2 separate regions of the Homo sapiens genome follow, and region 1 is linked to region 2. The links come from fine-mapping of genetic effects on gene expression. A gene starts in region 2. The other region holds a variant in brackets. All regions are shown on one strand. Distances are from middle to middle. Region 1 overlaps DNMT3B (DNA methyltransferase 3 beta). Region 2 holds the start of COMMD7 (COMM domain containing 7).

Region 1 (5,373 bases), 28 kb after region 2:
CATTTTCTCTGACTCTGGGAGTTGTTTGGCACCATGGGTAAGGAAGCCCTACCCCGACAATGGCACTGGAGGAAGAGCCTCAAGCTTAGGCACTGGCTTTCCCAAGTCCTTGGGTGAATTTGCAAACCTCACCTGTGTCCTCATGTTGCCCTAGGATGTTACATGCTGAGCTGTAAGCAGGATGCTGAATTAGGGGAATTGCTCAGTACTAAATATGATTGTTACTACAACCACAAAACTAGCAAGGAGTAGAACTGCATTAAAACACTGTTGCAAATTTTTTTATTTTTTGAGACGGAGTCTTGCTCTGTCGCCCAGGCTGGAGTGCAGTGGCGAGATCTCGGCTCACTGCAAGCTCTGCCTTCCGGGTTCACGCCATTCTCCTGCCTCAGCCTCCCTAGTAGTAGCTGGGACTACAGGCGCCCGCCACCTTGCCCGGCTAATTTTTTGTATTTTTAGTAGAGACGGGGTTTCACCATGTTCGCCAGGATGGTCTTGATCTCCTGACCTCGTGATCTGCCCGCCTCGGCCTCCCAAAGTACTGGGATTACAGGCGTGAGCCACCATGCCGGGCCCACTGTTGCAAATTTCTTTCCAAAACCTCTGCCAGCACATGGCTGAACCCACAGAACTGGCAGGACACACAAGATGCGCTGGGTTAAGATGCTTTGGTGCTCTCTGTGGGTTCAGCTGACTGTTTTACAGGCCTGCTTCTTGACCGTTGGGGTGGGCAGATCTGAGCCCCCACTAGGTAATTGTGGACAGTTTTTGAAAAGTGGTTTTTATGTGAGATCATGGGCTTCTTTTAAAGCCATTTGTATATATGCAGTTCCCTTATCTGCAGGCCTTAATTTTGACATTTCTGTTTTCCTTCTCGAGATTTGTTTTCTGTCCCTGCAGTACTGCTTTTTCCAGAATGTCATATAAATGGAATCATACATTATTATTATTTTTGAGACAGCATCTCACTCTGTTGCCCAGGCTGGAGTGCAGTGGCACGATTTGGCACATTGCAACTTCCGCCTCCTGAATTCAAGCAGGAACCATACATTATATAGCCCTTCGAGTCTGGGTTCTTTTACTTATTGTGAGATATTTGAGATTTATTTGTGTTATGACACGTACTAGCAGTTATTTCTTACTTTTTAAAAAATTTTTTAAGACAGGTCTCTGGAGTTCAGTACTACAATCACAGCTCACTGTAGCCTCAACTCCAATGCTCCAGCAGTCCTCCCACTGCAGCCCCCACTGCCCAGTAGCTTCGACTACAGGCACTTGTGCACCACTATGCTCAGTTAATTTAAAAAAAAATTATTTTTGAGACAGGGTCTTGCTCTGTCACTCAGGCTAGAGTGCAATGGCATGATCTCAGCTCACTGCAACCTCCACCTCCTGGGTTCAAACGATTCTTCTGCATCAGCCTCCTGAGTAGCTGGAATTACAGGTGCCCGCCACCTCATCAGGCTAGTTTTTGTAATTTTTTTTTTTTTCTGAGGCAGAGTTTTTCACTCTTGTTGCCTAGGCTGGAATGCAATGGTGTGATCTCAGCTCACCGCAACCTCTGCCTCCCAGGTTCAAGCGATTCTCCTGCCTCAGCCTCCCAAGTAGCTGGGATTACAGGCATGTGCCACCACCACCAGCTAATTTTTGTTGGTTTGTTTGTTGTTGTTGTTTTAGTAGAGATGGGGTTTCTCCATGTTGATCAGGCTGGTCTCGAACTCCCGACCTCAGGTGAGCCGCCCACCTTGGCCTCCCAAAGTGCTGGAATTATAGGCTTGAGCCACCATGCTCCGCCTTACTTTTTTTTTTTTTTTCCTTTTGAGACAGAGTTTCGCTCTTTGCCCAGGCTGGAGTGCAATGGCATGATCTTGGTTCACCACAACCTCCGCCTCCCGGGTTCAAGTGATTCTCTTGCCTCAGCCTCCTGAGTAGCTGGGATTACAGGCATGTGCCACCATGCCCGGCTAATTTTGTATTTTTAGTGGAAACGGGGTTTCTCCGTGTTGGTCAGGCTGGTCTTGAACCCCTGACCTCGGGTGATCTGCCTGCCTCAGCCTCCCAAAGTGCTGGGATTACAGGCATGAGCCACCATGCCCGGCCTAAATTTTTTTTTTGTAATGTTGGGGTCTCACTTTGTTGCCCAGGCTGATCTTGAACTCCTGGGCTCAAGCAATCCTCCTGCCTAGGCCTCCCACATTGCTGGGGTTACAGGCATGAGCCACTGTCCCTGGCATCTTTTTTTTTGCTGTGAATATAACATTTCTAGCTTTTCTTTGTGTTGTGATTTTTACCTTTTCAATACATAGTGTGCAAGGACATATTTTCTGGTTACGATAGAAATAATTTATTTGAAAGTCTATCCATGTTGAAACAACTAAAAATGCTGTGCCTTTATCTGTTGGTAGAAGAACTAAGCTCCCTTAAAGAAATCTAGAGAGCAGAAGAGAACAGGAAATGAGAGACCACAAACTAAAGGGAGAAAATGAACTTT[T/C]CAATAAGGCTTGCAGGCTTGCTCTAGCAGTTGTAGTGATTAAAAGTAGTGGCAATGGCTGGGTGCAGTGGCTCACACCTGTAATCCCAGCACTTTGGGAGGCTGAGGTGGGCGGATCGCCTGAGGTCAGGAGTTCGAGACCAGCCTGGCCAGCATACTGAAACCCTATCTCTACTAAAAATACAAAAATTAGCCGGGCGTGGTGGCATGTGCCTGTAATCCCAAGGAAGCTGAGGCAGGAGAATCACTTGAACCCAGGAGGTGGAGGGGTTACAGTGACCCGAGATCATGCCATTGCACTCCAGCCTGGGCAACAGAGCAAGACCGCATCTCAAAAAAAAAAAAAAAAAAGGAGTGGTAAAGGATAAATACCAAACAAAAGTGAGCCTCAAAACATATTACATATATATGGGAAGTTCAAATAAGAGATAGAGTTGGGATGTATTCATAGGTGTCTGGCTTTACTTACGGGGAAAAATATTAGGTCCCTATCTCATACCATATACAAATAATCAAATAATTATGTTGATTAAACCTGAGTGGCCTAATTCAAATAAATGTTTCTCAGACAGGCGAGTTATGTTTTCCGATTGTAAAAGTTACATGGGCTTAAGGTAGTTACCCCCCAAACCTTCCTTCTGAGTATGAATTTTTATAGTTAGAGAAGAAATGCTGCAGAGAAATGGCTTAAACATCAATAATTGATGTTGCATTATGCAGGTTTCTTGTTTTCACTTTACATAACTTTGTCTAACAATAAGTACTGCACTCTTTGCCCCCTATTGTGGAAGCAGGTAATTTAGTCAACCAGTCCTCTTGACCGTGATTTGATTGCAGTGTTTGCTATGACAAATGGGACTGCAGCAACCCCCTTGCACAGAGGCCTTGGCGAGAGCTTTGAACTGGGTGGTTTCTGAGCAGTAGAATCCTGTGTAACAGGATATAGACATTAGGCATTTTAGATGACACAGTGAAGATTACTATCCCAAAGACTGAACCAGTATCCCTGCTGTGTAGGTATTTAGGCTTAAGATGACTAAATACTGTGTAGATAGGTAGACTTGAGATTTAAGGCGTTCTTAGTTGAAGCCACAGGTGCAGCCTGCTGTGAGGGAGGGGCCAAGGTTGAGGGGGTCTCTTTCCAGAATATTGACCTCCTTTGCCCCCTTGGGAGGGGACAGGGCTGTTGGCTCTGATTTTGCCAAGGGGTAGGTGGCCACAGGAATTGGGCATAGCAGTGCCTAGGATTCTGCTCCAATGCTGCCCCTCATTCTCTGAGTTACCATTGACCACTCCTTGGGGCTGCCACACCCTTCAAGGGGTTCTCAAAGTGGATATAGGGGAAGGGGCTGGGTGTTTGTGATTTCTGTATAAAGGGCAAAAAGTTTAGACTCTAAAGTTACTGTCATATCTTTTCAGATCTTTATGGTCCTAGTTTTTTTTTTCCTGTTACTTATCTAAAAGGTAATGACATTATTTTATTCCAGTGCGTTGACAAACATCTGAGTATATTTTGGTGTCATGCACAGTCTGCAGATAGCCACTTGTCTGGTTTTTCCCTGTTTGGACACATTTTTTTTTTTTTTTTTTGAGATGGAGTTTCGCTCTTGTTGCCCAGGCTAGAGTGCAATGGCACGATCCCGAGTAGCTGGGATTACAGGCATGTGCCACCACCCCGGCTAATTTTGTATTTTTAGTAGAGAGCGGGGTTTCTCCATGTTGGTCAGGCTGGTCTTGAACTCCCGACCTCATGTAATCCGCCCTCCTCGGCCTCCCAAAGTGCTGGGATCACAGACGTGAGCCACTGTGCCTGGCTTTTTTTTTTTTTGAGAGGGAGCCTGAGCCTGTACTGTTGCCCAGGCTGGAGTGCAGTGGCTCACTGCGACGTCCACCTCCCGGGTTCAAGCGATTCTCCTGCCTCAGCCTCCTGAGTAGCTGGGACTATAGGTGTGTGCCACCACGCCTAGTTTATTTTTTGTATGGACACACTCTTCTGATAATTCTGCTTACTATGCCAAGGGCCCAGCTTCTACTGTAGGATGACAGTGGTACATGTACTCATGACCTAGAGGCACTGAGCAATTCCCCAAACGCATTCTGAATTGTGGAGGGTGATGGGGTGGATACTTCTTGATTGGCCCTGTGGTGTGGTGCTGTGGTGGGTAGCCAGATGGCACATGAGAATAAGTGACTTCAGGTATCATGACTGTGTCATCTATGTAGGGGTCCTTGGTACCAACTTCCCAGTGAATTGGGTGGGTTACTTTATTTCACAGATTATAAAACTGGGGTTTGAGAGAAATATTGGGCTTTTTTTTTTTTTTTTTATAACAGGGTCTTGTGCTGTCACTGGGCCTAGAGTGCAGTGGCATGACGATAGCTTTACTGCAGCCTCAACTTCCGAGGCTTAGGTGATCATTCCCCATCAGCCTCCGAGGAGGTGGGACTACAGGCGAGTAGCTAGGACTACAGGGGCAGGCCGACACATTCAGCTAATTTTAAGAAATATTTTAATAGAGAAGAGGTTTTGCTGTGTTGCCCAGGCTGGCGTTGAACTCCTGAGCCCAAGCTCAAGCCTTGGCCTCCTAAAGTGGTGGTATTAACAGGCATGAGCCACTGCGCCCGGCAGTGGTTTTTTTTTTTTTTTTTTTTTTTTTTACGCTTTCCTGTAAATCTGATGTTTTCTGGAATTTAGGGTAAGTTCCTTATCAGACAGAGCAAAAGCACAGTACTGGGACCTTGTGTTCTGTCATGTGTTCTGCTGCCGCCGCCAGTGTGGACAGCCTGAGTCTGGCCCCCTTTCCTTTGGATGTGCTGTCCCTGCTGCCTGGATCCTTCCCGCTCTCTACTTCACCTAGGTGTGGTGTCCCTCCCTGGGCTTA
Region 2 (5,345 bases):
GGCTTACGCCTGTAATCCCAGCACTTTGGGAGGTTGAGGCAGGCAGATCACTTGAGGTCAGGAGTTCGTGACCAGCCTGGCCAACATGGTGAAACGCTGTCTCTACTAAAAATACAAAAATTAGCCAGGCATGGTGGTGCACGCCTGTAGTCCCAGCTACTTGGGAGCCTGAGGCAAAAGAATCACTTGAGCCCAGGAGGTGAAGTTTGCAGTGAGCCAAGATCACGCCACTGCACTCCAGCCTGGGTGACAGAGGAAGACTCCGTCTAAAACAAACAAACAAACAAAAAAAAACTGACAGTAGGCTAAGGTCAACTTATCAAAAACAGAAAAAAAAAAATTTTTTTTTAGGGATGGGGGTCTCACTATGCTGCCCAGGCTGGAGTGCAATGGCTATTCACAGGTGGAATCACCATGCACTACAGCCTTGAAATCCTGGGCTCAAGTGATCCTCCTGTCTCAGCCTCCCAAGTAGCTGGGACTACTGTGGTAGCTGTGCCACCGTACCCAACTAGAAAGTTGTTTTTTTTTTTTTGAGATGAAGTCTCACTCTATTGCCCAGGCTGGAATGCAGTGGTGCAATCGCAGCTTACTGCAACCTCCACCTCTCAGGTTCAGGCGATTCTCCTGCCTTAGCCTCCAGAGTAGCCGGGACTACAAGTGCCCGCCACTACACCCAGCTAATTTTTGTATTTTTAGTAGAGACAGGGTTTCATCATGTTGGCCAGGATGGTCTCGATCTCCTGACCTTGTGATCCGCCCACCTTGGCCTCCCAAAGTCCTAGGGTAGGTGTGAGCCACCGTGCCCGGCCTATTTTTTATCTTTTATACTGTATTTGTACTGTACCTTTTCTATTTAGATTTGTCTAAACACACAAATATTTACCATTATAGTCCAGTTGCCTATGGTATTCAGTACAGTCACATGCTGTATAGGTTTGTAGCCTAGGAGCAATGCGCTATACCATATATCCTAGGGTGCAGTAGGTTTGTGTAAATAAACTCTAGGATGCTTGCATAAGATAAACTCAGGGCTGGGCACAGTGGCTCACGCCTGTAATCCCAACACTCTGGGAGGCTGAGGTGGGCAGATCACCTGAGGTCAGGTGTTCAAGACCAGCCTGGCCAACATGGTCAAACCCCATCTCTACTAAAAATACAAAAATTAGCTGGGCATGGTGGCGTGTGCCTGTAGTCCCAGTTACTCGGGAGACTGAGACAGAGAACTGGTTGAACCTGGGAGGCGGAGGTTGCAGTGACCCGAGATCGCGCCACTGCACTCCAGCCTGGGTGACAGAATGAGACTACGTCTCAAAAAAAAAAAATTAATTTCCATTTCTATTTAATTTTTAAATGTGGCTACTACAAAATGCAAAGTTAGAAATGTGGCTTGCAAATTTTTCTATTGCATAGCTCAAGCTTAGAACCTTCCTGTCGTTACAAGTTCTAAGTTTGGTTTTTATCTCGCAAGCAGCACTACTGTGTGGGAAGTTGTGGGGGGTATGGAGATGAAAGAAGAGGGGCGCTACCTCCTGGGAAGTGACAACCTAGCGGGGGAAATAGATGTATCTTCCCAGTGGGGGTGAGAAGTGTCATTCTCACCTATTTCAGCAGCCTTGGTGGTATGAAAAGGCATCCCAACCAGCACAGAAGCAGGATGCCTCCAAGACTGCCTTGGTTGGCACCTGCAGCCTGAAGGGGGAGAAAAAGGCTTTGCTAGCTCCCCTACCATCGAGGATGAAGACCCCCACTGTACACAGTGTATAAGGTTTCTTTCCATGTGAATCCCAGTGACTCTCCTTAACTGGGTGGAGGTGGAAGGTGTCATCAGCCTTGTCCCAGATCGAGCCCCTCAGGCCCACAGAGCCCCAGTGGGGCCTGGCTATTACTGACACTCATGTCACACTGAGATGTAAGACGGCAGCCCAGGCCAAGCTTCCCCGGGCCCCCTCAGATTCTCGGGCCCTCCCACTCCCCTCAGGCTTCCTCGGCCTCCCTGCCAAACATCTATCTCCCTTTGGACCCCACTGCTCCCCAAAACTCCCCACGCCCTTAGTCTGTTCCTTCAGTTCCCCAAACTCCTTCAGCCTCATCTAGACTCCCCTCCGTCCCTCTTCTAGGACCCCAAAAGCTCTCCTCGGCCCCAGGACCCCGCAGAGGTCCCGTAGTCCCATCTCTGAGACCCCACAAAGCCTTTCGGACCCCTCAGGTGGCCCTTAGGCCTCCGGAGATCCCTTGGCTCCCCACACTCTCCTCAGACCCCAGCTCACCTTAGCCTCGCCCCGAACCCACCTCACACACCCCAAACGCCCACAAGACGCCGCTCTGTCTAGTCTCTCCCAACTCCCGCGCACCCCCGGACGTCCCCCCCACCCCAGGCCCGGATCCTGGAATCACCTGGGCCCCGCGCCCCACGCCCCGCCGCCGGGCCCACCTGCGCGCCCAGCTGGTTCAGCTGCTGCATGTCGCCGCCCACGGCCTCCGGCACCGGGTCCTCAGTGCAGTGCAGGCGGCCCATGGCGCGCGCCCCAGCCCCGCAGGTTCCACCGCCGCCGCCGCCCTGCTCAGCTTCCTCCTCCGCTGCCGCTGCCACCGCTGCCGGCCTCTCCGCGCATCCACAACCGCACTTTCGCCACGGCCGTCGCAGCGCACTCCTCCCCCGGCCGCCCTGGGCTGTCCGGAGCCGGGGAGCCCTCGCAGGGCCGCGGACACGCGCGGCCGCCGGGCTCCGGGGAGGGGCAGGGGCGGCGCCGGCACCGGCAGACGCGAGGTTTCCTGCCAGCTCTCCCGCTGAGTGACCTTTGGGTACGGCGCTTGGCCTCTCTGAACCTCAGTTTCACCATCTGAGAAAATGATGGCTGGGGTAGCTCCTTAAATGAGTTAAGCCTCCAGAAATGTTTAACGCAGAGACCGGCACACAAGAGGTCTTCAATCAATGGCTAGCTGCTATTATCATCATCACTGTTACTATGCACTCCAGAGATATTTATGGCAGCCTACTCGATGCCAGACACTGGGGACAGGGAAGGGAACAAAGCAGGCCAGAGTGTCTCTCGGAGAGCTGACATCAGAGTAGAGACTAGGTCTCAACCTTGGAAGGGCATCAGCATCACCCCAGCATCACCTGGTATTGCCGGGCCCCGCCCCCAGAGGATCTGATTCGAAAGGCCAGGGTGGAGCCTGAGAATTTGCATTTCCAATAAGCACCCAGGGACTACACTTTGAGACCTTCTGGAGTGGAAGAAACTGACTTACCAAAGTTTCCTCAAAATAGTGCGAGGGCTTTGACTGTGCGGGGCAGGGAGGGTGGTGGTGAGGTGGGTGAGGGGAGGTTACTGAGACCGTGATCATCACTGCAGCCCCTCAAACACTCTAACCCCCATGCCCTCTCTTCCCAGGGGCTCCTCACAGTTCCCAGGTGAATATTACCCTAATCCCCACTGGAAACATGAGAAAATAGAGACATGCTACCCAGAATCTAGGAACTGAACGCCAAGCCTAAGGGCTTCACCTAGCCCCTAAGTCCAGCCTTGAGGGTAAAGAGGTAATGCCGAGAAACCTGGAGCAGGGAAATGTGGGGGGTTTGGCTGGCCTTCCTCACCAGCCCTCCTCCTCTCCTCTACCCTTTCCTGAAAATCCCTTCTGTAAAAGTATAAACAAAATGTCTTCTACCCGGCCCGGCGCGGTGGCTCACTCCTGTAATCCCAGCACTTTGGGAGGCTGAGGCGGGCGGATCACTTGAGGTCAGGAGTTTGAGACCAGCCTCAACATGGAGAAACTCCGTCTCTACTAAAAATACAAAATTAGCCGGGCGTAGTGGTGCATGTCTGTAATCTCAGCTACTCGGGAGGCTGAGGCAGGAGAATTCCCTGAACCCGGGAGGCATAGGTTGCGGTAAGCCGAGATCGCGCCATTGCACTCCAGCCTGGGCAACAAGAGCGAAACTCCGTCTCAAAGAAAAAACAAAAAAGTCTTCTACCCAAAGGCCAAGCCCATCCCCTTCAGTCATTATATCATTCATACATTCATTCAACAAATATTGAGTGGCACATGCCTGTGGTCCCAGCTACTCGGAGGCTGAGGCAAGAGGATCACTTGAGATCTTGAGATCGAGACTGCAGTGAACCCAGATGGCGCCACTGCACTCCAGCCTGGGCGACAGAGCAAGACCACATCTCCATAAAAAAAAAAGAAGGTCTGCTGTGAGGCAGATACCATGACATGATAGGGGGTGGGGATTCCACAGTGACACAACCAGATGAACCAGATGCAGTGCCTGGCCTCTGAGAAGTCAGAATTGACCCAGGGGGCAGACGCAAGTGTGTGTGAAAGTATTAAGGGATGCCAAAAAGTAGGAGGTGCTTTGAGAATGTGTACAGGACACAGTCCGAGTTTGGAGTACCTGGAAGAGAATAAACCTTCGGGTGACAAACAGACAGGAACTCAGAGGCCCTACTCACCGTGCAAGAATTTTTTTTTTTTTTTTTTTTGAGACAGATTCTGGCTCTGTCACCCAGGCTGGAGTGCAGTGGCACAATCTCGGCTCACTGCAATTTCTGCTTCCCGGGTTCTAGTGATTCTCCAGCCTCAGCCTCCCGAATAGCTGGGAATGCAGGTGGCCACCACCAAACCCAGCTAACTTTTGTCTTTTTTTTTTTTTTTTGGAAACGGAGTTTTGCTCTTTTTGTCCAGGCTGGAGTGCAATGGCGAGATCTCGGCTCACTGCAACCTCCGCCTCCCGGGTTCAAGTGATTCTCCTGTCTCAGCCTCCCAAGTAGCTGGGATTACAGGCATGTGCCACCACCCCGGCTAATTTTGTACTTTTAGTAGAGACGGGTTTCTCCATGTTGGTCAGGCTGGTCTTGAACTCCCCACCTCAGGTGATCCGCCTGCCTCGGCCTCCCAAAGTGCTGGGTTTACAGGCGCGAGCCACCGCACCTGGCCCAACTTTTGTCTTCTTACTAGAGATGGGTTTTCACCGCATTGGCCAGGCTGGTCTCATACTCCTGACCTCAAGTGATCCACCTGCGTCAGCCTCCCAAAGTGCTGGCATTACAGGCGTGAGCCACTGCACCTGGCCCGGAATTTTTATTTTTAAATATTTTTAACCTTGTTAAAAAAGAAGATCTGGGCTGGGCGCAGTGACGCATGCCTGTAATCCTAGCACTCTGGGAGGCTGAGGCCGGTGGATCACCTGAGGTCCGGAGTTCAAGACCAGCCTAGCCAACATAGTGAAACCCTGGTTCTACTAAAAATACAAAAATTAGCCGGGCATGGTGGTTCATGCCTGTAATCCCGGCTACTCTAGAGGCTGAGGCAGGAAAATCGCTTGAACCCAGTAGGCA

What was found. PIP is the estimated chance that this variant, and not a neighbour inherited with it, causes the effect.
Region 1: its variant is fine-mapped to the expression of COMMD7 in whole blood (TOPMed, PIP above 0.99).

The regions. Positions count from the first base shown.
Region 1 is chr20:32,768,812-32,774,184 of GRCh38, forward strand. The region is part of intron 1 of DNMT3B (DNA methyltransferase 3 beta); the gene reads left to right. Among named protein-coding and RNA genes, the nearest start is that of DNMT3B, 9.1 kb to the left of the region's middle. RefSeq lists enhancers at 1,428-1,929, 4,899-5,373. The variant T/C (reference allele first, on the strand shown) is at 2,492.
Region 2 is chr20:32,740,874-32,746,218 of GRCh38, forward strand. COMMD7 (COMM domain containing 7) reads right to left here and starts at 2,594. Exons shown (of 9, transcript NM_053041.3): 1 at 2,435-2,594. The coding sequence starts at 2,518. RefSeq lists enhancers at 259-760, 1,430-2,257, 3,145-4,089 and silencers at 1,211-1,385, 2,370-2,439, 2,620-2,849.